Regions from separate parts of the Homo sapiens genome. Here regions 1 and 3 are each linked to region 2. Evidence: fine-mapped expression QTL. A gene starts in region 2. Each other region holds a variant in brackets. All regions are shown on one strand. Distances are between the middles of the regions.

What was found.
Region 1: its variant is fine-mapped to the expression of OR2L13 in cerebral cortex (GTEx, PIP above 0.99). The same link has a PIP of 0.9 or more in nucleus accumbens.
Region 3: its variant is fine-mapped to the expression of OR2L13 in whole blood (TOPMed, PIP above 0.99). The same link has a PIP of 0.9 or more in blood mononuclear cells and putamen.

The regions. Positions count from the first base shown.
Region 1 is chr1:247,953,587-247,964,856 of GRCh38, forward strand. It overlaps a transcript of OR2L13 not described here. Among named protein-coding and RNA genes, the nearest start is that of OR2AK2, 6.0 kb to the right of the region's middle. The variant A/G (reference allele first, on the strand shown) is at 6,030.
Region 2 is chr1:248,088,897-248,100,166 of GRCh38, forward strand. OR2L13 (olfactory receptor family 2 subfamily L member 13) reads left to right here and starts at 6,288. Exons shown (of 3, transcript NM_001395936.1): 1 at 6,288-6,358; 2 at 9,755-9,879; 3 at 10,462-11,270. The coding sequence starts at 10,480. LOC105373275 (a long non-coding RNA gene) reads right to left here and starts at 6,646. Exons shown (of 4, transcript XR_949369.3): 1 at 6,508-6,646.
Region 3 is chr1:247,931,706-247,942,975 of GRCh38, forward strand. OR2AJ1 (olfactory receptor family 2 subfamily AJ member 1) reads left to right here. Exons shown (of 2, transcript NM_001355235.2): 2 at 2,042-3,634. The coding sequence starts at 2,064. The coding sequence ends at 3,050. It also overlaps the pseudogene CLK3P2, a transcript of OR2L13 not described here and the pseudogene OR2X1P. Among named protein-coding and RNA genes, the nearest start is that of OR2L8, 12 kb to the right of the region's middle. The variant C/T (reference allele first, on the strand shown) is at 5,711.

The DNA of each region.
Region 1 (11,270 bases), 140 kb before region 2:
TGCCATCCACAAATATGCTAAGTTGGCATATTTATTAGTTTGAGCTGAAAACATTGAAGAAATTTTGGTTAACATTAGAGGAAGAGGTTATCTGACCTGTCTTTTTTGGCATGCAGCAAGCTCTAAAGATTCCTCCAGGAGTCTTTGGTACATTCTAATACTCTTTCGGTACCCTCCCTGTAATGGAATATAAAATAGCCCTTATCACTACAGCCTGGGAATTGGGGGAATGCAGTGTACCTGAATAAATAAACTACCAGAATTAACTCTTATTTTTCACTATCTTTACACCCCCATATACCTCCTAGGGACTCCCCTGGAATTTATGGTTTCGAGCCAGTGTCTCTTTTTTTTTCTTTGTAATTTTTTCTGCAATTTATCATTCTGTTTCTAAAAGTATAAAGACATCTTGCTTTGACCATTTATTTAGATTTCACACTCTTGTGAGGATTCCCATGTACATGTGAAATGCATAAAACTCATATGCTTTTCCTTCATTAATCCATCTTGTATCAATTTGTTTCCTATACCTGGGCAGAAAGCTCACATAGGAGATAAAGCGGGTGAGGTGGAGGTGATCCCTCATGTTTCCACAGAAGTAATAAGTAGCTTCCTTTTGTAAGATTTATGTCAACCACCACTACTAAATTTTTTTTACTTGCCTTTTAAATCTGGAAAAAAATAGACAATGACTTTTAAAGGCTAAATATCTTTTCAATTACTGAATAATTATTCAGTACTTACAGCATGGTAAGAAAATGCAAAGATATATACATGGATTCCACAAATTGGATGGAGGTCAATTTGACATTTGGGACTTAATCTCTGCTATTTTGTCTCATTACCACAAATTCAACATAAGATCCTTTTAATTTTGTCTGCTAAATATTTTAAAATACATTTATATTCCTAAATCCCTGGGATCACTGCCCTTACTTTTCATAGGGTTTTCTAGTTAAATTTAAACTGACATTAAAAATCTGATTGTATCAATCAAGGTCCTTAATTGAAAGTGAAATATAAAATGTCTTTTCTTTTTTTTTGATTTTTTGAGTACTGCTAGATTTAATTGCTAGTGACTACAAAATTAGTAACTTATTTCATGTGTTTAAAAATGCAAAACTGAATTTCTGCATAACAAGATAAGGAGGATAATCAGTGGATATTTAAAGCATGCCAACGTTTTCATCATGTTCAGGAGGAAGATAAGAATACGACTTGAAAATTGCTAGAAAAAGATCATCATTATGTATACATTAAGACTTTCTCAAAATTACAATTATGTATACAGTACAACTTCTATTTCTGACAGTATGTTGCACTAAATAACCTGAAATTTGCCATTCATTCATTCATTCAATATATATATATATATTTTTACTTTAAGTTTTAGGGTACATGTGCATAACGTGCAGGTTAGTTACATATGTATACATGTGCCATGTTGGTGTGCTGCACCCATTAACTCGTCATTTAACATTAGGTATATCTCCTAATGCTATCCCTCCCCCCTTCCCCCACCCCACAGCAGGCCCTGGTGTATGATGTTCCCCTTCCTGTGTCCATGTGTTCCCATTGTTCAATTCCCACCTATGAGTGAGAACATGCAGTGTTTGGTTTTTTGTCCTTGAGATAGTTTGCTGAGAACGATGGTTTCCAGCTTCATCCGTGTCCCTACAAAGGACATGAACTCATCTTTTTTTATGGCTGCATAGTATTCCATGGTGTATATGTGCCACATTTTCTTAATCCAGTCTATCATTGTTGGACATTTGGGTTGGTTCCAAGTCTTTGCTATTGTGAATAGTGCCACAATAAACATATGTGTGCATGTGTCTTTATAGCAGCATGTTTTATAATCCTTTGGGTATATACCCAGTAATGCGATGGCTGGGTCAAATGGTATTTCTACTTCTAGATCCCTGAGGAATTGCCACATTGACTTCCACAATGGTTGAACTAGTTTACAGTCCCATCAACAGTGTAAAAGTGTTCCTATTTCTCCACATCCTCTCCAGCACCTGTTGTTTCCTGACTTTTTAATGATCACCATTCTAACTGGTGTGAGATGGTATCTCATTGTAGTTTTGATTTGCATTTCTCTGATGGCCAGTGATGATGAGCATTTTTTTTCTTTTGGCTGCATAAATGTCTTCTTTTGAGAAGTGTCCGTTCATATTCTTCGCCTGCTTTTTGATGGGATTGTTTTTTTCTTGTGAATTTGTTTGAGTTCATTGTAGATTCTGTATATTATTAGCCCTTTTTCAGATGAGTAGATTGCAAAAATTTTCTCCCATTGTGTAGGTTGCCTGTTCACTCTGATGGTAGTTTCTTTTGCTGTGCAGAAGCTCTTTAGTTTAATTAGATCCCATTTGTCAATTTTGGCTTTTGTTGCCATTGCTTTTGGTGTTTTAGTCATGAAGTCCTTGCCCATGCCTATGTCCTGAATGGTAATGCCTAGGTTTTCTTCTAGGGTTTTTATGGTTTTAGGTCTAACATTTAAGTCTTTAATCCATCTTGAATTAATTTTTGTATAAGGTGTAAGGAAGGGATCCAGTTTCAGCTTTCTACATATGGCTAGCCAGTTTTCCCAGCACCATTTATTAAATAGGGAATCCTTTCCCCATTGCTTGTTTTTGTCAGGATTGTCAAAGATCAGAGAGTTGTAGATATGCGGCATTATTTCTGAGGGCTCTCTTCTGTTCCATTGGTCTATATCTCTGTTTTGGTACCAGTACCATGCTGTTTTGGTTACTGTAGCCTTGTAGTATAGTTTGAAGTCAGGTAGCGTGATGCCTCCAGCTTTGTTCTTTTGGCTTAGGATTGACTTGGCAATGTGGGCTCTCTTTTGGTTCCATATGAACTTTAAAGTAGTTTTTTCCAATTCTGTGAAGAAAGTCATTGGTAGCTTGATGGGGATGGCATTGAATCTATAAATTACCTTGGGCAGTATGGCCATTTTCATGATATTGATTCTTCCTACCCATGAGCATGGAATGTTCTTCCATTTCTTTGTATCCTCTTTCATTTCATTGAGCAGTGGTTTGTAGTTGTCCTTGAAGAGGTCCTTCACGTCCCTTCTAAGTTGGATTCCTAAGTATTTTATTCTCTTTGAAGCAATTGTGAATGGGAGTTCACTCATGATTTGGCTCTCTGTTTGTCTGTTATTCGTGTAGAAGAATGCTTGTGATTTTTGCACATTGATTTTGTATCTTGAGACTGTGCTGAAGTTGCCTATCAGCTTAAGGAGATTTTGGGCTGAGACAATGGCGTTTTCTAGATATACAATCATGTCATCTGCAAACAGGGACAATTTGACTTCCTCTTTTCCCAGTTGAATCCCCTTTATTTCCTTCTCCTGCCTGATTGCCCTGGCCAGAACTTCCAACACTATGTTGAATAGGAGTGGTGAGAGAGGGCATCCCTGTCTTGTGCCAGTTTTCAAAGAGAATGCTTCCAGTTTTTGCCCATTCAATATGATATTGGCTGTAAGTTTGTCATAGATAGCTCTTATTATTTTGAGATATGTCCCTTCAATACCTAATTTATTGAGAGTTTTTAGCATGAACGTTGTTGAATTTTGTCGAAGGCCTTTTCTGCATCTATTGAGATAATCATAGGTTTTTGTCATTGGTTCTGTTTATATGCTGGATTACATTTATTGATTTGCATATGTTGAACCAACCTTGCATCCCAGGGATGAAGCCCACTTGATCATGGTGGATAAGCTTTTTGATGTGCTGCTGGATTCGGTTTGCCAGTATTTTACTGAGGATTTTTGCGTCGATGTTCATCAGGGATATTGGTCTAAAATTCTCTTTTTTTGTTGTGTCTCTGCCTGGCTTTGGTATCAGGATGATGCTGGCTTCATAAAATGAGTTAAGGAGGATTCCCTCTTTTTCTATTGGTTGGAATAGTTTCAGAAAGAATGGTACGAGCTCCTCCTTATACCTCTGGTAAATTCGGCTGTGAATCCATCTGGTCCTGGACTTTTTTTGGTTGGTAAGATATTAATTATTGCCTCAATTTCAGAGCCTGTTATTGGTCTATTCAGAGATTCAATTTCTTCCTGGTTTAGCCTTAGGAGGGTGTATGTGTTGAGGAATTTATCCATTTCTTCTAGATTTTCTAGTTTATTTGCGTAGAGGTGTTTGTAGTATTCTCTGATGGTAGTTTGTATTTCTGTGGGATCGGTGGTGATATACCCTTTATCATTTTTTATTGTATCTATTTGATTCTTCTCTGTTTTCTTCTTTATTATCCTTGCTAGTGGTCTGTCAATTTTGTTGATCTTTTCAAAAAACCAGCTCCTGGATTCATTGATTTTTTGAAGGGTTTTTGTGCCTCTATTTCCTTCAGTTCTGCTCTGATCTTAGTTATTTCTTGCCTTCTGCTAGCTTTTGAATGTGTTTGCTCTTGCTTCTCTAGTTTTTTTAATGGTGATGTTAGGGTGTCAATTTTAGATCTTTCCTGCTTTCTCTTGTGGGCATTTAGTGCTATTAATTTCCCTCTACATACTGCTTTGAATGTGTCCCAGAGATTCTGGTATGTTGTGTCTTTGTTCTTGTTGGTTTCAAAGAACATCTTTATTCCTGCCTTCATTTCGTTATGTACCCAGTAGTCATTCAGGAGCAGGATGTTCAGTTTCCATGTAGTTGAGCAGTTTTGAGTGAGTTTTTTAACCCCAAGGTCTAGTTTGATTGCACTGTGGTCTGAGAGACAGTTTGTTATAATTTCTGTTCTTTTAGATTTGCTGAGGAGTGCTTTACTTCCAACTATGTGGTCAATTTTGGAATAGGTGTGTTGTGGTGCTGAAAAAAATGTGTATTCTGTTGATTTGGGGTGGAGAGTTCCGTAGATGTCTATTAGGTCCGCTTGGTGCAGAGCTGAGTTCAATTGCTGGATATCTTTGTTAACTTTCTGTCTCTTTGATCTTTCTAATGTTGACAGTGGGGTGTTAAAGTCTCCCATTATTATTGTGTGGGAGTCTAAGTCTCTTTGTAGGTCTCTACGGACTTGCTTTATGAATCTGGGTGCTCCTGTATTGGGTGCATATATATTTAGGATAGTTAGCTCTTCTCGTTGAATTGATCCCTTTACCATTATGTAATGGCCTTCTTTGTCTCTTTTGATCTTTGTTGGTTTAAAGTCTATTTTGTCAGAGACTAGGATTGCAACCCCTGCCTTTTTTTGTTTTCCATTTGCTTGGTAGATCTTCCTCCATCCTTTTATTTTGAGCCTATGTGTGTCTCTGCACGTGAGATGGTTTTCCTGAATACAGCACACTGATGGGTTTTGACTCTTTATCCAATGTGCCAGCCTGTGTCTTTTAATTGGAATATTTAGCCCATTTACTTTTAAGGTTAATATTGTTATGTGTGAATTTGATCCTGTCATTATGATGTTAGCTGGTTATTTTGCTCGTTAGTTGATGTAGTTTCTTCCTAGCCTCGATGGTCTTTACAATTTGGCATGATTTTGCAGTGGCTGGTACCGGTTGTTCCTTTCCATCTTTAGTGCTTCCTTCAGGAGCTCTTTTAGGTCAGGCCTGGTGGTGACAAAATCTCTCAGCATTTGCTTGTCTGTAAAGTATTTTATTTCTCCTTCACTTATGAAGCTTAGTTTGGCTGGATATGAAATTCTGGGTTGAAAATTCTTTTCTTTAAGAATGTTGAATATTGGCCCCCACTCTCTTCTGGCTTGTAGAGTTTCTGCTGAGAGATCTGCTGTTAGTCCGATGGGCTTCCCTTTATGGGTAACTAGACTTTTCTTTCTGGCTGCCCTTAACATTTTTTCCTTCATTTATACTTTGGTGAATCTGACATTTGCTTTTCTTGGAGTTGCTCTTCTCAAGAAGTATCTTTGTGGCGTTCTGTGTATTTCCTGAATTTGAATGTTGGCCTGCCTTGCTAGATTGGGAAAGTTCTCTTGGATAATATCCTGCAGAGTGTTTTGCAACTTGGTTCCATTCTCCTCGTCACTTTCAGGTACACCAATCAGATGTAGATTTGGTCTTTTCACATAGTCCC[A/G]TATTTCTTGGAGGCTTTGTTCATTTCTTTTTATTCTTTTTTCTCTAAACTTCTCTTCTCACTTCATTTCATTCATTTGATATTCCATCACTGATACCCTTTCTTCCAGTTGATTGAAGTGGCAACTGAGGCTTGTGCATTCGTCACGTAGTTCTTGTGCCTTGGTTTTCAGCTCCATCAGGTCTTTTAAGGACTTCTCTGCATTGGTTATTCTAGTCAGCCATTCATCTAATTTTTTTCAAGGTTTTTAACTTCTTTGCAATGGGTTCGAACTTCCTCCTTTAGCTCAGAGTAGTTTGATCATCTGAAGCCTTCTTCTCTCAACTCGTCAGTCATTCTCCGTCCAGCTTTGTTCCATTGCTGGTGAGGAACTGCGTTCCTTTGGAGGAGGAGAGGCGCTCTGATTTTTAGAGTTTCCAGTTTTTCTGCTCTGTTTTTTCCCCATCTTTGTGGTTTTATCTACCTTTGGTCTTTGATGATGGTGACGTACAGATGGGGTTTTGGTGTGGATGTCCTTTCTGTTTGTTAGTTTTCCTTCTAACAGTCAGGACCCTCAGCTGCAGTTCTGTTGGAGTTTGCTGGAGGTCCACTCCAGACCCTGTTTACCTGGGTATCAGCAGCGGAGGCTGCAGAACAGCGGATATTGGTGAACAGCAAGTGTTGCCGCCTGATCGTTCCTCTGGAAGTTTTGTCTCAGAGGAGTACCAGGCCGTGTGAGGTGTCAGTCCACCCCTACTGGGGGGTGCCTCCCATTTAGGCTACTCAGGGGTCAGGGACCCACTTGAGGAGGCAGTCTGTCTGTTCTCAGATCTTCAGCTGCATGCTGGGAGAACCACTACTCTCTTCAAAGCTGTCAGACAGGGACCTTTAAGTCTGCAGAGGTTTCTGCTGCCTTTTGTTCAGGTATGCCCTGCCCCCAGAGGTGGAGTTTACAGAGGCAGGCAGGCCTCCTTGAGCTGCGGTGGGCTGCACCCAGTTCGAGCCTCCTGGCTGCTTTTTTTTACCTACTCAAGCCTCAGCAATGGCAGGCACCCCTCCCCCAGCCTCGCTGCCACCTTGCAGTTGGATCTCAGACTGCTGTGCTAGCAATGAGTGAGGCTCCGTTGGCGTAGGACCCTCTGAGCTAGGCGCGGGATTAATCTCCTGGTGTGCCATTTGCTAAGACCATTCGAAAGTGCAGTATTAGGGTGGGAGTGACCCGATTTTCCAGGTGCTGTCTGTCACCCCTTTCTTTGACTAGGAAAGGGATTTCCCTGACCCCTTGCACTTCTCAGGTGAGGCCATGCCTTGCCCTGCTTTGGCTCACGCTCAGTGTGCTGCACCCAGTGTCCTGTACCCACTGTCCGACAATCCTGTGTGAGATGAACCCGGTACCTCAGTTGGAAATGCAGAAATTACCCGTCTTCTGCGTCGCTCACGCTGGGAGCTGTAGACTAGAGCTGTTCCTATTCGGCCATCTTGGCTCCACCTCCAGAAAATTTATTTTCATTGAGATATAAAAGAAACATTTTTAAAAATCGGGTGGCTCATAAATTTTCAGAAACACAGAAGAATCAGGCTTGGTATACACACATTATGCACAATGCCCAATATGAGCCTGGAATAAATTCCACACATCACCAGGACACAGACAGATAAATGGGCATAATCTCCAGCCTAGAACTGTCAGGTCAAGTAACCTCAAGGAAGACCACATTGCATAGGTTTGAGGAAGTATTTGTAAGAAGATAGTATTGAGAACTGGGTCTTGGAAGGAATTGGGCATGTGGACTGTGGCTCATGAAATTGACTTGAGGCAGATAGATGAGAAAGGATGGGAATGTAATGATAAGTAATCTACAAGCCTGTTTGTAAGGCTTGTGATGGTAAAGTAAGGTGCCCTTTGGGAAGCAGGCTAATTGAACTGCCTAGATTCAAGGAAGGCAAAGACTCCGATGTCCGGTTCAGATGGACCATGGATAATATACAAGGAAATATCTCCTAGTAGAGTCAGGGATCATGGACAATATTGGGTCAGAAATTTGTCCCAAGATCAGGATCCACATCCAGAGAAAGAAGCCATGTCTGGACCTGAAGAGGAGGACTCCCTGTGTTTTTATTGGGAGGCAATGACTGGGTAGAACTTTGGGGTGTCTTTCCAGACGGTGTTTAAATAATTTCATGGATAAAATGCAGTTTACATTTTTGGATATTTGGTAGCTAGCAGAGCTCAGTATTACACACTTTGGCAAAGGCCAAAAAAAAAGCCTGATTCTCGTGTGTTTCTGAAAATGTATGAGCCACCCGATTTTTAACTTTTGACTCATTAAAAATTCAGAATCTTACTTGTAAAGATTAGAACAGTTACTGGAAGGGGGCCAATTTGGTCAGGGAGAACCTATTTTCGTTGCTGCTTCCAGTGTGATCATATGATCCCTCCCCTCCTCCATCTCAGATTTCCAGATTTTCAGAATGGAGTCCAATTTTTTGCTTTGGCCCAGAGGAGAAAGTCTAAGAAATATGTAAATATACTGAGTAAACTTAAAAATTTCACAGAAGTTGTGCCTTTACCAGAAGTAGTGGGTTATTTACCTTCAGTATCCTCTATGAATTCTATAATTGTAAACTGGTGAGACTAGAGTGCCAATTAGGTAATTGCAAAGATATTTCCCTGGTGCTAAATCTTAATTAGTGGAGACAGCTACCAGGGATCAGATGCTAACTACTGATTCAGTAGACTATTGAAAGTAAATTAATACAAGTATCTACCATTCACAGAAGAAAGTATTGACTCCAGGAGAAGGAGAAGGGCTGAATGTCAGGAAGCAGACACTGGCTGTGTGACACTGATTTAAACTGCAAGTAGAAATTCATCAGGGCTACTAATTTTATCACAAGTTAGAGTTAATGACCTGATTAAATATCTCATAAGTATTGAATGGTTTATCCCTATTTGCCCTATAAATTTCACCTTTTCAATGTGCAGTTTTACCAGCGTAAACTTTTTTGAAAATCTAACTATCACATTATAGCAGAAGTGTCTACTTTTACTATTATCAGCTAAAACATCTTTTTGGCCTCCTAATAAACTGCTTTGTTAGAAATATAGTTGCACTGTATCTTCCCAGGTAGTTTTAATTGACTTTCTACAAATCGCCAAATTTAATTGTTCCTAGATAGTTGCATGTTTTAAAGAAATCCAGGAAAAATACTCCTAAATATGACAAAAATATTTGATGCAATTCCTTGCTCATATTATTATTCTTGTAAATTATTTTTCTTTAATTTCTAAATAATACATGTATTTTCTTTTTTTAAGAATAAGACTCAAATTTCAATACACAATAAATTGAAGAAATAGATAAGTTTGGACTTGCAAATGTTCTAGTCAGATTATCACAGGGCAAACCGCAAAATTGAGGCTCAGCCCGGGATGCCATGTGGGTTCTTGCCTTCATGCAGGAAGGAATTCAAGAGCAAGCCAACAGAGTAAAGTGAAAGCAAGTTTATTGAAAAGTCAAGGAATAAAAAGGTGCCTACTCATAGGCAGAGTAGCAGCATGAGCTTACCACATACTTGGGGTTGTTATTTCTTGATTATATGCTAAACAAGGAGTGAATTCTTCATGTTTTCTGGGAAAGGTGAGGGGAGTTCCAGGAACGGAGGGGTCCTCACCTTTTCAGACCATATAGGGTAACTTCTGGACTTTGCCATGGCATTTGTAAACTGTCATGGTGCTGGTGGGAGTTTCCTTTGGTATGTTAATGTATTCTAATTATAATGAGCAGTGAGGACCACCAGAGGTGGCTTTCATTGCCATGATGGTTTTGGTAGGTTTCAGTCAGCTTATTTACCACATCCTGTTTTATCAGTGGAGTCTTTGTTCCTTGTATCTTTTGAAACAAGTCCGGCTGAATTCCTATCTCAGGAATATTCAAGGGCATTTTGAAAAACATACATGCTTGGGTTGAAACTCCAGATTTCAGATTTTTAGTATAATCGAGATATGCCTTTTTCTTATGTCTATGTTTTAGTTAATTTTGGCATAGTTATAAGTAATTAATATATGACAATAACATAAGCATAAAATTAGAAAAACATTTAGAATTTAGGCTGATTTTCTTTCCAATCTGCATTCCTCATATATGTCCTCTGTCCTCTCTCTAGTACAAAAAGGGTTTCCAGTTCATTGTGTATCATTCCATAGGTAGACACATATATGACCATATATTATTTTTATTAATTACTATTCTGCATCTTACTTTTATTAATGTTGTTATGGTAAAATTTAAAACACATACACACACATAGCCATAGGCAAGATAACCACAAGGAAACAAGGTATGATAAATTGAACACCTGTGTGACCACTTGCCAGTTCAGGATATAGACCAATGTCAGCACGCTCAGAAGCCCTTTGCATTCCCATTTCCAAACAAAAAGTCCTCCTTCCACCTGAATGTAATTACTATCTTATCTTGTAGTAATACTCTTCATACTTTATTTATAAGTTCTAAAGAAATGTGTAAACAGTGTACATTAATTTTAAACCACTTATTCTACTGAGTTTGGCCTCCAGTGAGTTTTGTGTTTATGACACATTCCTGTCTCTCATTTTTATTGACATATAATATTTCATTGTGTCATCTTACTGCAGTGTGTTTAGCCATATCAGGATTGATGGGCACCTATTTGGATTCTATCACATCTGATGCTGTAATGGAGATGGCTATAGAAATCTACTGGTCTTCCTGTGCAAAGCTCTAATTGATTATATACCCAGGAACTGCTGCGTTATAGCACAAGTAAATTCCAAATTTACTAGAAAATAACACATGACTTCCAAAGAGTATGAAATTTGCACTCTATTGGAAGACTTTGGAAGTCATAATGATCAAATTTATCATCCACACAATTTTTCTGTGTATTTCTTTTATTATTTTTAAAGTTTCACAATTCTGGTATATATAGTGCATGGTGGTGTTACTTTACATTTCTCTGGTTTTTAGAATAATATTTAATACTCTATTTTATATTAACATAGCATAGTTCATTAATTCATTCTACTTTGGGACATTTTCAGTTTCTGACTATTTTGAGTAATGCTGCTATGAATTTTCTTCTACACATCTATGATACGTGTTCTTAAACTTTTATCTTTTTTATAAGTTTACACACATATGTGTATATATGTGTATATGTATTGCTGTACACATACATAAGCATGCATGTTATATATTAGCATATATGTAATATATAATA
Region 2 (11,270 bases):
TGAAATCAAATTCACAGTGTCTTTTCCAATACCGCTTCTCCAACTCTCACACCAACTAGGTGTCTTACTATTCAATTTAATCCTGACACTGACCGGAGTCTGGAGCATCAGACTCCAGATGCTGATGGAGTCAATCCCACAAGACTGCCTTCTCTTCAGATGCCAGTCTCAAGTAGGGGATATCCAGGTTACCTCTACCTGATTTGGATACAAACTTGGAGGATCTCACAACTACTCTGCTTCAGGTTATATAACTGGCTGGAACGAAGCATGGAAATGAGGAAAATGCTACCCTTGCTATTATAGTTTATTATAAAGGACGCAAATGAAGAATCAAATGAAGAGGTACATCTGGGAAGCTCCGGAAGGGTCCCAAGCACAGGAGCTCCTGTGCCACCCTCTGGGCAAGGAAATGTGTTTGCCAACTCAGAAGCTCCCTGAACCCTGTCATTATGGGTTTTATGGTGGCTTCATTATATAGGCATTAATGTGGCTGTTGGTAATTAACTCAATCTCCAGCCCCCACCTCCCCAGAAGTTGAGTCATGGGGCTTGAGATGGAGCAGGGAGCCCTCTTAGTGACCTGTAAGTTCCTCCAAGTGCAGAGATAAAGGAAAAGCTTAAGTTCCTTCGGGGAAATTCCAGGCACCTAGCTAGTCCTGAGAAATAAATGAGCAACTTCATAAGCAAGAAGATAATTATAGCCTAATGCAATAGCCAAGGAAGTTAAAATCACAGGGTACTTAGTTCCTTTATAAAAACTAGAGATAACAGCTTAACATTTGTCCCTGAGTTGTTTTTCAGAAACTTGGAATCCCACTAAATAGCTCTACTGGCACATAGACCTCAGATAAGGAGGAACTGAGGACAGAGCTCGGACAACCATGTTTTCTTCTGAATTTCTTCCTGAAGGTCCTGGAGGAAGTCACACCCATGGATGAGAGTTAACATTGTTTTCTGCTGACTCTAATTTTTTAGACAAAGCTTTACTTCCTTAACCAATCACAAATCAGAAAATTTTTGAATCTCCCTATGATGTGTGGGCCCCCCACTTTGAGATGTCCCATTTTTTCAGGTTAAACCCATGTATAACCTCCATATATTGATTTATGACTTTTCCTGTAACCTCTTCCTCCCTCCCTTTAAAAACTTACCTGTAGCCATCCATCAGAGAGTTCAGGTCTTAAGCATTAGCTGCTCACTTCTCCTTGCTTGCCCCCCTGTAATAAATTCCTCCCTTTCTCTTGCTGCAATCCCCATGTCAGCATTTGACTTTGCTGTATCAGGCAGGCTGACTTGAGTTTCGTTTGGTAACATCTCTGTGGACTTGGGGTGTGCCACTCTCAGGGTATGTAAATGTGTTTGCTAACACAGAAGCTCCCTGAACCCTTTCGTTTAGTATGTTTTTTAATTTCTAGTTTTTGGGGTATATGTGCAAATTTGTCATACAGGTAAATTGTAGGTCACAGAGGTTTCATGTACAGATTATTTTGTCATGCAGGTAATAAGCATAGTACCCAGTAGGTGGTTTCTCATTGTCTCTCACCTTCCACCCTCAAGTAGGCCCCGGTGTCTGTTGTTCCTGTCTGTGTGTCCATGTGTACTTAATGTTTAGCTCCCACTTATAATGAAAACATGCAGTTTTTGGCTTGTAGTTCCTTGGTTGGTTTGCTTAGGCTAATGGCCTCCACTTCATCCATGTTGCTGCAAAGGACATTATCTCAGTCTTTTTGTGGCTGCATAGTATTTCGTGGTGTATATGTACTACGTTTTCTTTATCCAATCTACTATTGATGGGCATGTAGGTTGATTCCATGTCTTCGCTATTGTGAATAGTGCTGTGATGAACATACATGTGCAGGTTACTTTATTGTAGAACAATGTATACTCCTTTGGGTATGCAAGTAATATTGAGATGGGTGGCTTGAATGGTAGTTCAGTTTTAAGTTCTTTGAGAAATCACAAAGCTGCTTTCCACAATAGTTGAACTAATTTACATTTGCACCAGTAGTGTATAAGCGTTCCCTTTTCTCTGCATCCTCACCTTTTGTTATTTTTAGATTTTTTTAGTAATACCCATTCTGACTGGTTATGAGATGGTATCTCATTGTGGTTTTGATATGCATTTCTCTAATGATTAGTAATGTTGAGTACTTTTTCATATGCTTATTGGCAACATGGATGTCATCTTTTGAAAAGAGTCTACTAATATTCTTTGCCCACTTTTTAATGGAGCTGTTTGTTTTCTGCTTGATTTGTTTAAATTTCTTTATAGATTTTGGATAGTAAACTTTTGTTGCATGTATATTTGCAAATATTTTATCCCATTCTGTAGTTTGTCTGTTTATTCTTTTGATAGTTTATTTTGCTATGCAAGAGCTCTTTAATTTAATTAGGTTCCACTTGTTAATTTATGTTTTTGTTAAAATCAATTTTAGTATCTTCATTGTAAAATCTTTGCCAGGTCCTATGTCCAGAATGACATTTCCTAAGTTATTTTTCAGAGTACTTAGAGTTTAGGTTTTATGTTGAAGTCTTTAATCCATCTGAAGTTGATTTGTGTATGTGATGTAAAAAGGGTTCCAGTTACAATCTTCTGCATTTGACTAGCTAGTTATCCCAGCACCATTTATTGAACAGGAAGTCATTTCCCCATTGATTATTTTTGTTGGCTTCGTTGAAAATCAGATGGCTCTCGGTGTACGGCATTATTTCTGGGCTCTCCATTCTGTTCCGTTGGTCTATGCATCTGTCATTGTACCATTAACATGCTGTTTTGATTATTGTAGCCTTGTAGTATAGTTTGAAGTCAAGTAATGCGATGTCTCCAGCTTTGTTCTTTTGGCTTAGGATTGTCTTGGCTATTTGGGTTTTATTTATTTATTTTTATTCCATATGAATTTTAAAATTGTTTTCTCTAATCCTGTGAGGAATGTCATTGATAGTTTGACCTAGGAATAGCATTGAATCTGTAAATTGCTTTGGGCAGTATGGCCATTTTAAGAATATTGATTCTTCCTATCCATGAACATGGAAAGTTTTTCTATTTGTTGGTGTCTCTCCAATTCCTTTGATCAGCATTTTATATTTCTCATTGTAGAGATCTTTCACCACCGTCATTAGCTGTATTCTTTTCATGGCCATAGTGAATAGGATTGAGCTCCTGATTTGGCTCTTACCTTGGCTGCTATTGGTGTATAGAAATGACACTGACTTTTGTACATTGATTTTGTATGCTGAAACTTTGCTGAAGTTATTTATCAAATCAGGGAGCTTTTGGACAGAGACTATGGGGTTTTCCAGATATAGAATGGTATCATCTATAAAGAGAGATATGTTGACTTCCTTCCTTCCTGTTTAAATGCTTTTCATTTTTCACTCTTGCCTAATTGCTCTGGCTAAGACTTCCTACATAATACATATTAATACTTAATGTGTATGTACCTAACAACATAATGTCAAAATAGATGAGGCAAAAACATATAGGACAACAAAAGAGAAATACATAAATCTGCAATTAAAGTTGGATATTCAGCACCCCTCTGTTAGTAACTGATACATCCAGAGGCAGGAAAACAGTAAGAATATAACTGAACAGCACCATCAACCAACTGGATCTATTTCACATCTGTGGACTACTCCATTCAACAACATTAGAATACACACTCATCAAAGTACACCACATTCTGGTCTATAAAACAGACTTTCACAAATTATACCTGCCTCACAGTCTTCTTAGAAGGGTTACACTGGTTAAACCAAAACTTTATTGTCACTAAGAAATTGTAAAGAATCTCTAAACTCATTATAAGCTCCCAGGCTTCATGGAGACACCATCACAGAGTAATTCATTACATCCTGGATTTTTTTTAATTGATCGCACCTACTGAAACCCCTTGTCTATAATATCCATCACCGCTCCAACTTGTTAATGAGTAACTTCCATCTCTGCAGAAAGAAAAAGATGCTCAATCTTTGGTCAGAGCCTCCAAGGAGTATGATTGAATCTTTGACAGCCATATTTTCCTCTAAAGAATTTATGTTTCTGTGCAGATGAAGATGGAAATGGAAATGTAAAAAGGAGATGCTGAGAGGGGCTGAGCCTTGTGCAAAAGTAGAGAGTGGGTTTAGGCAGGAGCACGGTCATTTCATACGCTGTCACAGGAAACAAGGCTGAGTATATGGTACAGAATGAGGGAGGCTGATACAGTTCATGGAAGAAAAGTTTGAAATCTGATTGTTTTATTAACAGGTTTGTTTATTTTTCCCAGAGGAGTCTAAGAGATGTGGAAGTGGGGTAAGGTTTGGGGAAAGCAGGAGGAGGCATGGATCACTACTTTTCAGAGAAAGTCTGCAGAGAACAAGAACATACTGTGACGTGGCAAAAGGGCCATGAGATTTGTATTCATAAATCTGAGATGTATTGTCATAAATTTGAGGTGAGATGCATCATCATATATTGGACTTTCCTCAAGTCACGTTTCATTGCTGTGTATGGATCTTACAGGGACGGTAACAGGCTGAGAATGAGTTTTACCTGGGTTTGAGTTTTGCACTGAGTTAAATGCAAGCAGCACCACATTGCAGCAGGGAAAAACATAGAAGTTACCAAAGACTAACAAGAGCAATAAAAAATCTGTATGTGATCATAACTGGTCCACTCTTCTTATTTAAAGCACTAGAATGGCTTTGTCCAGTTTCGTACTTCATCGTATTTGCATCCAGTATTTATTGAGTCTCATCTCATCATCTCCTAGGACAAAGGGTGCCAAGATAATTCAAGAATCCAGCATTACTTTAGTTCCGGTTCCATCCATGTTGTTGCAAATGAAAGGAATTCACTCTTATTTTTTTTTATGGTTGAATAGTGTTCTATGTATCTAGTAAATTTTCATTATCCATTATATTACATGAAATAAGCCAGGCACAGAAAGACAAACTTTGAGCATTCTTGCTCATATGTGGGAGCTAAAATTAAAAAATAATAAATATAGTAGAATGACTGTTACCAGAGGCTCGGCAGAGTAGAGTAGAGTGGGGAATAAACTGGAGATGATTAATGGGCTCAAAAATACAGTTAGGATGAATAAGACTTAGAATGTAGTAGCACAACAGGATGACTATAGTTAACAATAATTTATTGTATATTTCAAAATAACTAAAAGTGGAATTGGAACATTTCTAACAGAAAAAATTAATAAATGCTTGAGGTAATAGGTACCCCAAATACCCTTATTTGCTCATTACACATTGAATGCCTGTATTGAAACATCACATGTACCTCATGAATATATGCAACCATTAGATAATCATAATAATTCTAAAAAATTAAAGGAAAAAAACAAAGAACATGGATATTAATTTTATAGCATTATTTCTAATTTCTGACATAAAATATAGCAGTTAGTGCCTTCAAAGATAAAAAAAGAACAATATAACCCCAAATAAAGTGTTCTTTTCTAGTTAACCAATGTATGGATTAAAGAGGTTAAGAGATGCTACAGTTGATTGAGCCCTTCCTCTGCAACAGACACTATGTAAACATTTGGCATACATCATTCTATTTAATTATTAGAATGTCCCTCAAATTAGTCCAGTTGTAAAGATTAGTAACAGGCTGAAATCTTAAGTAATTTTCCCAACTCAGCTTCCTAATTAGTGGCATAGCTGTCAGACTAGAGTATTCTCTCTGACTCTAAATGCTCATTTTATCACATTGTCTCTAAGAGTCAGCTTTCACTTTAGTAGAATAGCTAAATGGATATATATTGTCATGTATCAATTATCTACCCCCACCTAACAAGTAGAAGGAAGTGTTTTATCCTAGTATAATTTAATTTAGTCACAATCATCAATCATTCCCCCTGGAAACTCACTAAAGAGTGGACAGGAAACTATCCTTGGGACTAGTTCTGCTATTACTGAGTCGAGTACTTGTAAGTGGTTCCTGCACTTTTTTAATCCGGAATTCTCTAACTTACATGATGACAGAATTTCCATAAACATAATTTAACATCTTCTATAGCTCTGAAATCATGTACTGGAATATTAAATACACCCCTCTTTAGTCTGATTCTGGGTAGCAGCTGAATGCAGCAAAGTTGATTGGGTTGGTTGATTTGCTTTAAGTTCAGAATTTGAGTTCATCCCCAAATCAGCAAAGTCAAGTGAAGTGACCAAGGTTTTGGCCCCCGTGGACTTGGACACTGGAGATCAATTAGAGGAGAAAGAGGAATATCTAAGGGTTGGTGACTTAAGGTTCTGTGTGTAAAATATAGCCATTCATCCTTCTGTCTTCCAATGGTGGAACCTGAGAGACTTCAGTGTAAAATGCCTTATTCTGTTCTCACTGAAACAAGGTAAGAGGAAAGGAAGAGACTTTATCTAAACACTGCATATGCAAACAGGATAATATTTCACAAGAGCTGGTGAAGTTGTTTTCTGATTTCACCATAAAGACAATGACTAGCTGTGGGAGCTGTAAGGAATGAATATTATAAAGTGTTACCTGGTGTTTCTTCCTCATGAATTTTGGCAGATAAAGAAGAGATTCTCACTTCAGAAAGAGTTTTGGTTTAATGCAGAGCCTATTGATCAGTGATATAATGTTATTGATAGCCTGATATACTATCAGAACATAGTTTGATGCTTACATGTTTTAAATAATTATATGGAATGTTTGCAGATTATGATGTCACTGTAAAGCTGCTGCTTTTTTTTTTTTTTTTTGAGATGGAGTCTCACTATGTCACCCAGGCTGGAGTGCAGGGTCACGATCTCAGCTCACTGCAACTTCTGCCTCCCAGGTTCAAGTGATTCTTCTGCCTCAGCCTCCCGAGTGGATGGGATCACAGGCGCATGCCACCACGCCTGGCTAATTTTTGTGTTTTTAGTAGAGATGGGGTGTCACCATATTGGTCAGGCTGGTCCCGAACTCCTGACCTCGTGATCCGCCCGCCTTGGCCTCCCAAAGTGCTGGGCTTACAGACCTGAGCCACTGCGCCTGGCCATAAAACTGCTTTTTATACCACTATATAAACTGAAGAACTTCGGGCAAAGTGAGTCATAGTAATATAACTGAATTGAGTTGATTTGGGTCGGCTTTATCCTAGAAAGCTTTTTTGGAAATGTTTTCCTATCATCAGGAAACTCTCTGCTGCACAGGGAATAGACAGTTCCATAACAAATTGAAAAAGAAGGCTGGGCACCCAGGTGGCTCATGCCTGTAATCCCAGCACTTTGGGAGGCCGAGGTGGGCAGATCACGAGGTCAGGAGATCGAGACCATCCTGGCTAACACAGTGAAACCCGGTCTCTACTGAAAATACAAAAATAAAAATTAGCCGGGCGTGGTGGTGGGCGCCTGTAGTCCCAGCTACTGGGGAGGCTGAGGCAGGAGAAGGGCGTGAACCCGGGAGGCGGAGCTTGCAGTGAGCCAAGATCAGGCCACTGCACTCCAGCCTGGGCGACACAGTGAGACTCTGTCTCAAAAAAAAAAAAAATGAAAACCAAGAGTGAACTAAAAATGTAAAAAAAGGTAACATGAACTTGTTAGAGTTGCACTATGTGCAGCTCTCAAACAATGTGACATTAATAAAAACATTTTCTCAGGGCGTGAGGGCTCTCCATGGTTAACACAGGGAATGGGCAAAGGACAGTGACAATTACTAAGGACCTACTATGTGCTGAACACACAGAACTGTGAATTCTCTTTATAGTTGTCCTATACGTTGTTGAGATTGAGGGAGCTGAGTCTATGACTATTTGCTATTGGTCTCCTGCTGATTGTTTAAAAGAGTTTTAAGAAGCATTCACTAATTGTAATTTTGCAAAATAAATTCAGGACCCTACACTTGCTACACTTACATTGTTAGTTTCTGTGAAATGAGGTGTTTTTTAACTCTATAAATTTCAGCAACGTATCTTTTAGAATGAGAAAGAAAATAAACTTTTTATCTGAGGAATAAGTAGCCCCCTTTAAATTATCAGGCCCAGCAAGATTGAAATGTGGCCGCAGTCACATCTCACTCTTTCTTGAGCTAGGTAATCATCTCTTGAATCTACGTGCTATGGGGGCTCTGGACTGACTTGTGGCAACTAACCATGAATTAACCTATCAATCCCCTAAACCACATATCCTATAGTTAAATAATGCATAACCAATCACTGATCAATGTTGTTTCTGAAACCAGTGAGACTTGCTGATAAATAACTTTAGAATTTGTCTCCACTCCTGATTCCTCCCTTTCTTTACCTTAAAAACTTGGGTCTCTTCTTGTTCTCCAGGTTACTTGCCACAGAAGTGTTTCTGGGCTGCAGCCCTCAACCTTGGCCCAAATAAACTTTCTGTATTAATTTTGCCTTAGTGTCGTTCTTTAAGTCAACAAGGATGGCCAAGGCAGTCACTAATCTCACACTCACCTGATAGCCACAGGAACAACATTTTCCCAGCTATAAGGTAACCGACAGAATGATGCTTCATGTAATTCTGGTGCATGAAATAAGGTCCCATGTCTAACAAGGAAAGCTGCTGGACATCAATGGAAATAGATCCTAAACTCAAACTCCAATATCCCATGACCTAAAATCTCCAAGTCCCAGATTCACAGGATCCTAAAAGTAACTATTCTCTTCCATTGCCTAACAACATGCCACTTTTCCATTTTTGGAAACAAAATCATTATTGTAGTAACTGCCATAAAACAATCTTTATAATACTCTGAGCTATAGTCTATGCAACAAAGAATCAAAATGTCTCTCTTCAAAACAACTCCAGGATGGAACACATAAACCTACACCCAAGTCAGCTTGTTCAGGGCTCGGTATTGGATACACCTCATGGGATCATGCTGGCAGCTTTCTTCCCCTGGATTTAAACCTGGATTAAACAAAGGAATTCAGAAAGCACTACAAAAGGCTTTTCCAATTTCCAGGACATGTTGGGCATCCCCTAAGGCCTGGGCACATCAGGACAGTTGGTCGCCCACTTGGGGATGGGACAGCACCTGATGAATCATTCTATCCCCACTGCCTCACTCAGTGACTACTGCATCAAAGGCTGTCAACATGTTAATCTGATAAAATTAATCAAATATTTGCTTGGAACTAAATTACTAGGATAGTTCTTACTGATAGAATGAAGCCACATGAGTTACAAAATCAATCTTTATCATACATACCCTGGAAATTAGAAAAGTCGTTTGGAATACTTTTTGAATTCCTTTGTTTAATCCAATGATCTCTCTGCTTTTTTATTTTTCTATAGAATCGTAATCACTACATAACATCACTGTATGTTTGAGTTTGTTGGTCTATTGTTTGTATAATTATCTCAATTTTAATTACATATTCTAAAATCCTTTGTGTTTCATCACCAAAGCACATCAGTAGCTAGCAGCACTGTCATAAAACATAAATTCAGTGAACACTATTTGAGGAAATGAATGTATCATAATGATGGTTTTCATGTTTTTTTCTGATCAGTTTTTATTTCTAAAGCACTATAAGAAGCAGAGAGTGCCTGTGATCCCATTTGGCATCCAAGTCCAATGCTACTGTGCACCTGTCATGTTCCCAACTTTTCATTGTTAGTGTTTATTCCTTAGACAGCTATAGAAATGAATTTCCATTTTTTTTCCTGTGGCAGGCTCTCTTTCACAATTGTATTCATGCTACCCAAGGTTATATGAACTAACAGTTGAGTTTAAGTTCCTAAATGTGAATAATTGCAACAAACTATGATTTGCTTTTGAACAGCAAAAGTTGAAAAATCAGTAACCCAAGATGACTAACCAAATCAATATGCTGGGCAGGATGAGACATCAGTGTCTGCCTCAGACAGAAGAGCACACACAAAACATGACCTCTCACTCCAAGCCCAGGTAAAGGAAGAAGTCACACAGATGTTAGAAATATAGTTTACGAATACCTGGGAAACTGCATGAAGAAAAAAACAAACTGCCAGATTTGGGGTGGTGTAAAGAGAAAAAGAGAGATTCTAAAAGTCATAAATAAAAATTCCCAAGGAAAAGCCTAGGCATAAAAAGCTAGACAAACTTTCCAGGGAGGGAAAATTATTTATTTTTGTTTGCTTGATTTCTTTATTCTCAATTATTAACATTTAATTGTGTTGTTCTATCTAATTAAATTGGAAGACATGCTTAAGCCATAAATTACAATTGTTCTACTGCTCACACTGGCTTTTCCAGTTGAATAGATTTGTAGCTGCTTGACTCTGCTGTCATCTACAGTAATGAAAATCAAACTATAAGAACAGAAAGTGAATATCCTCTCTAATCTCCATATGCTTCAGATATAGAAATTGATTAAAAAAAACCTGCAGTGTTAGTGGAGAAACAACTCATTCTAAACAAACATTGATAAAGTCAGTTCCTTTTTGTTTTTCTATTGTGTTTTATTTCATGTTTTGTGCTTTGCTTTTGTTTCTATTTCTCTTTCAACAGTTACAGCAGAAAGTTTTCATGGAGAAATGGAATCACACTTCAAATGATTTCATTTTGTTGGGTCTGCTTCCCCCAAATCAAACTGGAATATTTCTCTTGTGCCTTATCATCCTCATATTCTTTCTGGCCTCGGTGGGTAACTCGGCCATGATTCACCTCATCCACGTGGATCCTCGTCTCCACACACCGATGTACTTTCTTCTCAGCCAGCTCTCCCTTATGGACCTGATGTACATCTCCACCACCGTCCCCAAGATGGCGTACAACTTCCTGTCCGGCCAGAAAGGCATCTCCTTCCTGGGATGTGGTGTGCAAAGCTTCTTCTTCCTGACCATGGCGTGTTCTGAAGGCTTACTCCTGACCTCCATGGCCTACGACCGTTATTTGGCCATCTGCCACTCTCTCTATTATCCTATCCGCATGAGTAAAATGATGTGTGTGAAGATGATTGGAGGCTCTTGGACACTGGGGTCCATCAACTCCTTGGCACACACAGTCTTTGCCCTTCATATTCCCTACTGCAGGTCTAGGGCTATTGACCATTTCTTCTGCGATGTCCCAGCCATGTTGCTTCTTGCCTGTACAGATACTTGGGTCTATGAATATATGGTTTTTGTAAGTACAAGCCTCTTTCTCCTTTTCCCTTTCATTGGCATCACTTCTTCCTGTGGCCGAGTCCTATTTGCTGTCTATCATATGCACTCAAAGGAGGGGAGAAAAAAGGCCTTCACCACCATTTCAACACATTTAACTGTAGTGATCTTTTACTATGCACCTTTTGTCTACACCTATCTTCGGCCCAGGAATCT
Region 3 (11,270 bases), 160 kb before region 2:
ATCAAAGACCACTAAAACAATTAAATCATTCTTGTAAAAAGCAATTAATGAGACCTAAAATGGGCCAGAAGTCAGCTAAGGACATATGATTCAGTAGGGCATGGAATTATGATAATAAAGTAAATCATTGATTAAACAAGTAAAACGAGAAGAATGATATAACTCCAGGGAGTGGGGAAAAGTTAACTTCGGATATAGGTGTGTTGATTTGAGTTGTCAGCAGTGTTTATTGATTTTGTAAATTTATTTACGATCAGCTCATGCAGGGCACCACTGCCCTGAAGTCTGAATCTGTGTGTATCATCACATTTTACAAAGCTGTGGGTCAAAACAGTCAAAACGGAAAGGAATGGCTGGGTGCGGTGGCTCACGCCTGTAATCCCAGCACTTTGGGAGGCCAAGGTGGGTGGATCATTTGAAGTCAAGAGTTCGAGACCAGCCTGACCAACATGGTGAAACCCCATTTCTAGTAACATACAAAACTTAGCCGGGTTTGGTAGTGGTGCCTGTATTCCAAGCTACTCGGAAGCTGAGGCTCGAGAATTGCTTGACTCCAGGAGGCTGAGGTTGCAGTGAGCTGAGATCACACCACTACACTCCAGCATGGGCAACAGAGCAAGACTCTGTCTCAAAAACAAATAAACAAAACAAAACAACAACATAAAAAACAGGCAGGACTAATTACACATACATTTATAAACTTCATTGAGGTGCTTATCTTTTCTAACTCTTCTAGGTCATAGCACACAACTGTTGTTATTCAAGGAAATTAAAATAGGATTAAGTGATCTGTTTATGAAGAATCTCAATATTCACAAAAATTAAAATAATCATTTATATATTGTCGGTGACATACTTCTGCATTTATTTTACAAAAGGGAAAATCTAAGCTCATTTTATTCAAACAAGTAGTTGTTAATAAGATGGAAAATAATTTTTTAATGTTTGTTATTTGTTTTGATGATCATAAAGCATCTTGAAAGACAGAAACCTGGACTAATGTATTTATAAATTTTATAATTTACGTATTAATATGTGAAAGTATATATGTATGTATTTATGCATATTGAGGGAAATGTTATACATACAGAAGGTGCACAAATAACTCTTATGTAAACATTTAAGTAACCACTATCAAAATATAAATAAATGATATGAACACCTACTATCCCACATATAGAATTAATACATTATACTTCAATTTCAACAAGTTAACCAAACACGTAAATATGAAATACAACCTTAAAGACACATTGTTGATGTTGACTAGATGATACTTCTATTTTTTACATTTAAAATATAGTGTTTCAAATTATAAACATATTGAGTTTTGTGACAATATTTCATTACTTATTATTTTGGAAAGTCTTAGAATTATACATTTTATTTTCTATAAGTTTAATCTAAATAATAAATGCAATAGACAGAAAGACAAGTTCCACAGTTCATTCATTTCATTCAAATATTCAACATTCTTGAGCAACTGCTATGCACTAGGCTCTGTTCCAGGCAGTTGGTTATACCAGTGATCAGAACAAGGATCTCTCATTGTGAAGTAAAAATTCTGGCATAGAATGAAAATAAACAGTAAATATAACCAGTGTGTTTATTATTTAATGTACTAGAAGGTGAAAAGTGACATGCAAACATGTGAAAATGGAGCAGAGCAAGGAGGACCAGGAAATTAGGGTTTAAGTGGGAGCCCTACAATTTTTTAAAGGGTGTGCAAGGATAGGCCTCCTTGGGAAAGTGACATTTGAGAAAAGAGTAGATTTGAGTAAATTATGTGGAATTAATTAAGATTATGAGACTCAAGATGGAGCCAAGGGCCCACTCAATATACTGAATATCATCGATTATTTGAAGAAAGAAATGCCCAGCTTGTAAAACATGCCCACTCCAAAAACTGGCTAAGAGTATTTTGATGTTGATTACAAAACATGCATCACTAACTCTCATTTTATTATGCAGGTATATTATTGTTAGATTAAGATTTACACTAATATTTTTTCTTTATTATTAATTCATTATTTCTTTTTAGGTTAAAAAATAGAGAATTCATGATGGGCCATCAGAATCACACTTTCAGCAGTGATTTCATACTTTTGGGATTGTTCTCTTCTTCCCCAACAAGTGTGGTCTTCTTCTTAGTTTTATTTGTCATTTTCATTATGAGTGTAACAGAAAATACGCTCATGATCCTCCTCATTCGCAGTGACTCCCGACTCCACACTCCAATGTATTTTCTGCTCAGCCATCTCTCCTTAATGGATATCTTGCATGTTTCCAACATCGTTCCCAAAATGGTCACTAACTTTCTGTCAGGCAGCAGAACTATTTCATTTGCAGGTTGTGGGTTCCAGGTATTTCTGTCCCTCACCCTCCTGGGTGGTGAGTGCCTTCTCCTGGCTGCAATGTCCTGTGATCGCTATGTGGCTATCTGTCACCCGCTGCGCTATCCGATTCTTATGAAGGAGTATGCCAGCGCTCTCATGGCTGGAGGCTCCTGGCTCATTGGGGTTTTCAACTCCACAGTCCACACAGCTTATGCACTGCAGTTTCCCTTCTGTGGCTCTAGGGCAATTGATCACTTCTTCTGTGAAGTCCCTGCCATGTTGAAGTTGTCCTGTGCAGACACAACACGCTATGAACGAGGGGTTTGTGTAAGTGCTGTGATCTTCCTGCTGATCCCTTTCTCCTTGATCTCTGCTTCTTATGGCCAAATTATTCTTACTGTCCTCCAGATGAAATCATCAGAGGCAAGGAAAAAGTCATTTTCCACTTGTTCCTTCCACATGATTGTGGTCACGATGTACTATGGGCCATTTATTTTTACATATATGAGACCTAAATCATACCACACTCCAGGCCAGGATAAGTTCCTGGCAATATTCTATACGATCCTCACACCCACACTCAACCCTTTCATCTACAGCTTTAGGAATAAAGATGTTCTGGCGGTGATGAAAAATATGCTCAAAAGTAACTTTCTGCACAAAAAAATGAATAGGAAAATTCCTGAATGTGTGTTCTGTCTATTTCTATGTTAAATGCCTGAAGGATACTCATGAGAGGTTTCCTAGAAAGAAATCAAAGCTTCTATCTTACCACATATAAGAAGTGAATATTTCAGAAACATTGTTAATAATAAACAATAATATGTGTTTGTGTTGTAAACACGTACCTCTAAAAATGTAGTGTTCCTTCTGTGGTACCAATTATAATCATGCAACAGTTACAGGAAGTAGAAGTTACCCAAGGCGTCCTATTCCCTAACACCAAAATTGTAAGACTTATGAGAATATCCCTAAAAATACAGTCACACATCCATTGTATAAAAGACAAATCCATGTTTATTTTTATAAAACTTTGTTAAATTATATTGCTAACAATCACTTATCAAAAATTCACAAATTCCATATGAAATCATTATTCTTTGCCTGGTTTATCAACACCTTTATTTAGTAAAATTTTACAGATACACATATATATGCACACACACATATATATGTACACACATATATACAGATATAAGTTGTGTTAAAATTGAATTACTCATCCTATGCTAGAAGCAACTATACAATATTAGATAGGAATATCATAAAAATTGCCTTATTTCATTTATACATACAGGATGATGTTTTACAAACTCTTCTAGCAATTTATCCTAATAGTTATTTCAAAGAAGATAATAAATATTTCTATTGAGAATTCATTTAATTTTTTTCCTTTTTTTTTTTTTTTTTTTTACAAACACTAAGACACACTTTGTAAGTTTAAAATGTATGGGCCAGGCGCGGTGGATCACGCCTGTAATCCCAACACTTTCGGAGGCCTAGGTGGGCGGATCACGAGGTCAGCAGATCGAGACCATCCTGACTAACACGGTGAAACCCCGTCTCTACTAAAAATACAAAAAAATTAGCCGGGCGTGGTGGCGGGCGCCTGTAGTCCCAGCTACTCGGGAGGCTGAGGCAGGAGAATGGCGGGAACCCGGGAGGCGGAGCTTGCAGTGAGCCAAGATGGCGCCACCGCACTCCAGCCTGGGCCACAGAGCTAGACTCCATCTCAAAAAAACAAACAAAAAACAAAACAAAAACAAAAACAAAAAACACGTATGAACAGCTTGAGTCAAATCTGCCTTCTGGCAGCTGGGCACCAAGTCTGCTCCCCCGCAGGCTCCTGCCTTCCTTCACATTGCACTGCTCATTGTGTGGTTCTGGTCCTGGGACCTGGTGGTAGGGGCTGGAGAATGGGGATTGGGCAGCCCAGTTCCGCTCTCCTCATGCAGTGTCCTGCGTCTGTCATCTGCTTGGGTTGTGGCTTGTGTGGAAGGACCACGACTGAGGTTGCCAGGCCAGCAAAGACGGGGTGCAGAAGAGTCTCAGCCAGAGTGATGTGCTGGGCAGCGTCCAATTTTACCACCCTCCGCATCAGGTCAAACAGCTGCACGTGCTCCAGAGAGTCTTGGAGCATGTCACTCTTCAGACGTTTGCAGTTCTTCACATATGGGCTGTCAGAGCTGTTCTCATCCCAAACTAGGCCCCATTTGTAGAAATATTTCTGCTTCTTGGTACAGGAGATCACGCGTAATGGGATGAGCCGTAGGGTCTTCAACATCACCAGGCGCTCTTGGTTTTCACAGGTCTGGAAGAGTGTGAAACCTGGTAGTACTTAAAGAGAAGGTAGCCCATGCCCTGGACATGGCAGGGGCGTGTCCAGCCCAGATCAAGGATCAGTTCAGGCAGGCGACAGTGACCGTGGTCACCATGGCGATGTGGTGCCCACGGTCAGAGGTGGCATTGGGGAAGTCAGCCACTCGGACGCTGGTGCTCCTCACTGACTTCTCATCGCTCCTGTGCTCGCTGTAGACGGTGTTTAACTCAGAATCCACATGCAGGATGTTCTCGGTTTTCAGGTGTGCGTGGGTCAGCCGGTTCTCGTGCAGAAATCTAAGGGTGTGGCAGAGCTGGTGGGCCATGTGCCAGACATGTGGGAGGGGAATGGCTGGATGTTATTCTCCTTCGGGAACTCAAGGGTTTTCCTGCCCAGGAGCTCAAAGGTGATATGCATGGACCGCGGAGGGTGAACCAGTCACACCCCAAGACGCACAGCAGCTGGTTCTCTTAGTCCTTCTCGTTTATTTTTTTCGAGAGCGTTGAGTTTTGGCGGTGCCGCCTCCCGGTGCTTGCCCACATTGCAGATGACCCTCCGGCAACCCGAGACGTCCTTCTGGCAGGGTCCAAGCACTCACCCCCTTGCCACAGGCGCCTTGGCCCAGGTTCCCACTTGTCTTTATTGCTCTTGGGGCCAATCACCGACCCGGCCACCAGGTGGCGCCTGTTTATCATCTTCCGCACCTGCGCCCTGGGCTCACTCGCTGGGGCTGCCGGAGGACGCGCTCCTTCAGGACCCGCTGCGGCCACCAGGTGGAGCCTCTTTATCATCTTCCGCACCCGAGCCCCGGGCTCACTCGCTGGGGCTGCCGGAGGACGCGCTGCTGCGAGACCAGCCGCGGCGTCTTTGGCAGTAGTGGGCGTGCTTGCGGGTCCAGGAGGGCCCCTCTCCCGCGACCGCCGACCACGATGAGAGCGTGAAGACCCTCTCGAAAGGAAGGGCTCTGCTCTACACACTGGTGTCTCCTGCGGAAGGGCAGCTGGGCACGCCTTCCAGACCGAGGTATCAGACGAGAGGCCCCCTGGGGACGGGG[C/T]GGTTACCGCAGTCTCCCTTCTTGCTCCCGACTGTCAGCCCTCCTCCCCTCCCATCAGCAGCTCAGGGATGGGGCTGGCTCTGGGGCCTCCTCTTCCATCAACCCCTCAGCTACGGGGCTGGTTCAGGGGACTCCTCCCCTCCCATCAGCAGCTCAGGGATGGGGCTGGCTCTGGGGCCTCCTCTTCCATCAACCCCTCAGCTACGGGGCTGGTTCAGGGGACTCCTCCCCTCCCATCAGCAGCTCAGGGATGGGGCTGGCTCTGGGGCCTCCTCTCCCAGGCTCAGCTGCCGCTGGGACCCACTCCCCTGAGCGCCTCTCCCCTAAGTAATGTTATTCATAGCAAAAACTAGAAAAACACATTTTAATGAAATAAATGTTCAGGTTAATTTTATTATAGCATGCCAACTAAATGTTTTATACTATAGAAATAAATATTTAACAAAATATGAAGATATATATGAAACTTTAATGAAAAATGATTAGCCTTTCACAATTGGAAAATTAAAAACAATAGTAATAAATGTTAACCATATTTTGGTGAATTGGACATCATAACATATTGTAGGCATACATGAAATATGGTACAAACATTTTAAAAAGAACAGTGTGGCAATATATATTAAGGACCTTAAATAAACTATGAAATTATCTTCTAATAATACAACTATTTAATGTTCATAATTTAGACATAAAATAAGCAATTATTATATATTAATAACATTTTTTCCCTGACAATTGAGTTTTTTTACTTGATTCCAGTCCTGTAACAGTCTCCTATCCCTGGTGTGCTAAGGAGTTTTATTTCAGTAGAGAATGAGTAAAATTACTAATATAATGATATATAAAAATGTATTGCTAAGAGACGTTCAAAATTGACTGGAAGTGCTAATGTTAATATTAGATGCATCAGGTGCTGTATTTTTTTAAAGCCTGCTTTTACAACTCATAATAATACCTAATGTGGACCCAAGAGCAGCATGAAATCAGAGACAGTAAAAATCCGAATAGCAAGATATTATTGTAAGCAAGAGAAAGTCATTCTGCTGAACAGATCTGAGGATGATATAGAAGTTTAGAAGTCAGAATTCATAGATTTACAAATTTCCAGATTAAAATACAAAAATAATCTGTGATAGGGCTAAAAAACATTTTTTTCCTGTTGGGGATATAGAAACATAGAAACGCCTACATTGAGGGTAGTAGAAGACTTCATGTAAATAAACATGCCCACACACACATGCACACATACACACTGACACACACACATATATTTTTCTTAATAAAGAGTGTAAAGAGCATGGTTCAATCAGTGTGGGATTGTAAAGCATACTTGGATGAAATTGGAAGTGGAAAGTAAGATATTTTAAACATTAACCACATACCTAAAGTACTGCACATAGAAATAATTAGGCTTAAAGGTAAAGCCTATCACAATCTAAAGACATGCATTTGTAGTGGTGCGTGTTCAGATACCTGGGTATTGTGGTGGAGATACACATAGTCTTTTGAACATTCCGTTGTAGGTCGCTGGTAGCTGGATATGTCCTTTAAACTTTTGTGGCAATTCATTTGAGAAGAAACGCAGCTTTTTCTATTGAGTTCTTATGCTATAAGTAAAGGATGCAAGACATTAATTAGACAAAATAAGGTAAAATTTTGTATTCGCTTAGAGAGTTTAAGAGGCTATTAGCCACTAGTCTCTATAGTGCCTAAGTAAATCGATTCTGCTTAATAAACTGCTACCTGGCTTAGTAAGTAAACAAATTGAAACTTATTTTAGGAAAGAAATATATATTCTTATATCTACATCAGATTCTCTTATGTAGAAACACTAGAGGGTGAATGAGGAGTTAATGTAAGCAGCATCATATTTTTGCTCATTCCTTTCTCTATGATTTCTGCTTCTTCTGTCCAAATTCTGTGAGGTGTCCTCTAGATGAAATTATCACAGGCATGGAAAAGGTCATTTTCCACTTGGTCCATCCTCATGATTGCAGTTGTAACATACTGGGACTCATTCATTTTCACATATGTATATGAGACTTAAATCATCCACATTTCAGGCCAGGTTAAGTTTCTAGAAATATTCTATGCTTTCCTTGCACTTACACTCAATCCTGTCGTCTACAGCGTTGGCACTGACAGTGTTCTGGTGGCAATGAAAAATATGCTCTAGAGCAACATTCTACATAAAAAAAAGAATAGGAAAATTCCTTTCACTTGTGTATTCCCTCTATTTCCACATTCAATGTCTATAGAGTGTTGTTAGTTTCTTTGGAAAGAAAACCGAACCTTCTGTCTTTCTAAGTGTAGAAAGATGTGGATATTTTCAAAACCCCAATAATAATAAAGTTTTTACATATGTTTGTTTTTTCAATGCATGTCTAAAAATGTATTGTTCCTCTTGTGGGTACCGATTTCAATCACTCAACACACTCTAGAAAGACAAAGATAACCTAAGGCTTCCACCACCCTCCCACTAAAATTGTAAGAATATATAAGAATTACATTTGAAATACAATCAAACCATTATATTAAAAACATGTACTAATATAATATCTGTGTTTTTATGAAACTTCCTAAAATTGTATTTCAAGTCTCACAATCAGTTTCTTTTCAAAAATCTACAACTCCACTTGAAATTACCATTATTCATTGAATGGTTTGTTTTGACACTTTAGTTTCCTCAAGTGAAAAATACATGCACATACACATATATACATACACATACTTACATACATTGATTGTAGTCAAATCAAGTTTCTCATTCTTTGTTGGAAGCATGAATACAATATTTAAGAATATCCTGAAAATTATGTCTTATTTCATGTATACATACAGGCTTATATTTTACAAACCCTTCTAACAATTTATCCTAAAAGTTATTGCAAAGAGAAAAATAAATGTTTCTATTAGGAATACTTTTAAATGGTTTTATTAATAGGAAAAACTAGAAAAACATTTTAATGAGGTAAATGTTTTAAGTTAATTTTATCAAGTTAACTAGATTTTGTATATTTAATAAATATCATAAAGTATTTAACAAAATATAAAGGTATCATAGCAAGCTTTAATGGGTGAAAGTGTTACTTTGCCTTCTATAATTGGAAACTTTAAGACAGTAACAATAATTGTTATCAAAGTTTTGGGTTGAATTTAACAGAAAACCTATAGGTATTCCTTATCCAACTCACTGTTGATGAGCACCTAGGTTGAATGTATGTCTTTGCTGTTGTGAATAGTGCAGCAATGAACATATGAATGCATGTGCCTTTTTGGTAGAATGATTTTGTGTGTGTGTGTGCATACGTGCGTGTGTGTGTGTGTGTGTGTGTGTGCGCGCGCTAAGCAATGGAATTGCTGCGTCAAATGGTATCCTTTTTAAATTTTTTGAGAAATCTCCAGACTGCTTTCCATAGCTGCTGGACTAATTTACATTCCCACCAACAGCATATAAGAATTCCCTTTTCTCTGCAGCTTCATCAACATCTGTGCTTTTTTTTAAATTTTTTGTAATAGCCATTGTGACTTGTATGAAATGGTGTCTCATTGTGGTTTTGATTTGCATTTCTGTGATGATTAGTGATGCTGAGTATTTTTTCGTATGCTTGTTGGCCACTTGTATGTCTTCTTCAGAGATGTGTCTGTTCATGTACTTTGTGCATTTTTTAATGGGGTTGTTTTTTGCTTGTTGATTTATTTAACTTCCCTATATATTCTGGGCATTAGATATTTGTCAGATGCTTAGTTTGCAAATATTATTTCCTATTCTGTAGGTTGGCTGTTTCCTCTGTTGGTAGTTTCTTTTGCTGCACAGAAGTTCTTTCATTTAGTTAGGTCCTGCTCATCAATTTTATTTTGTTGCTGTTAATTTTGGAGACTTATAAGTCAGGTAGAGGAGTAAGTATTTGGGTTATATCATAGATATTGAAAGGTTTGCTCTCTGAGGCATGTCAAAAGAGAGTTTAGATATATAAAGAATGGTGAATGGATACTAGACTTTCTGATGAACTAGCATTACCATGCCCCTCATTTATTTATTTACATGGTCATTGTAAAGGAGATATGGAATATGTAAGAAGTTTGTTATATGCATGATACTTGGAGAAATAGACATGGAAGATGAAAAAAATAGATGGATTTTGGTCTTGATTCCTCAATTAAACCAACAAATTCCTGTGGTGCTATTTGGACAGACGCCGAATGGAGAGAGATAGAGAAAAAGAGAGAGAGAGAGAGACCTTGTCATGAAAGAGAGAGACCTTGTCATGAAAGAATTTGTGAAACAAATGGACAAGCATTGGTACCTATAGAACCTAGTGATGGAGTGTGACTCAGAGCTGTGTACAAAGGCTGTCTCTTCATTTCATTAATGAATACAATGTGTGGCAGGGATACAGGAATGTCTCTTATTCTCTTCGGCATCTTAAAGTTTCTGTATGTTTCAGATTTTGTGGCATGGAGCCTTCCTAGTGAGAATCCCAATCATGATTAATTCCCATTTGGTCTCACAAGCTGGTAAATACTGGGAATTATTGTGTTACTATGACTGTAGCCTCCCAGTACCAGTCTTGGTTTCCTTTCTTTCTGTCCTTCAATCCAGACTGGCTTTCAGATACACACATACACAAAAAAACTACATGATCTCACTTACATATTGGGCCTAAAAATAATTGGAATAAGTTGCCCAGACTGGTCTCAAACTCATGGGTGCAAATCATCTGGAAACCATCCTCACAAAATGAATAAAACTAAATTCTGGGTTTTTAACCAAAAGCATAAACTTTTAGTAGAAGCATACAGTAAGCATGAACCAGCTTGCCCAATAACCTATTTTGTGTGGCTGCTTAGTGCTTAAAAGTCATGTAGCCCCTGTCACAAGGTCCTCATTTCCCTTAATTGCTTCTTTAGATATCATCTTTAATATTAGGAAACCTCAAGTTTTCTACATAAAATGTTTTCTAGATCCTGAATTCCAGTGGGTCCACGGAACCAGTGGGGCTACCGAGCTTGTCTGAGAAACTGACTCAGTGTACTACATGTTCTACTTGCCAATAATTAAACTAGTAATATAAATTATATAATATTGGATTAGTCTTAATCCCAGTCTCTTATTGATTCCTAATGACATTTATGAAAATAATTTGGTGTTCTAAATTTTCTATAAAAAATTGCCCAAAGTCATAAAGTAACTGAAAATAAATTGCTCTGCAGAGAAGCAGAAACCTGCCAAAATTTTTAAAAAATGTATTTGGAAATTAAATTAGAATAGTTTCAGTGCATTTAAATGATTTTTATTAGGGTAAATATATATAAGAGAAACACCATTTTAACCATTTTAAGTGTAGAGTTCTGTGTCATTGCACATTTATATTGTGCAATCATCCCTATCGTGCATATCCAAAACAGTTTCATTGTCTCCAACTAACACTTTGTTCTTGTTAAACAATTACTCTCCTTCTCTCCCTTCTCCCATTCCCTGGGGTCCACTCTTCCACTTCCTCTCTCTATGAATTTCACTACTCTGGGTACTTCGTGTAGGCGAATTCATACAATA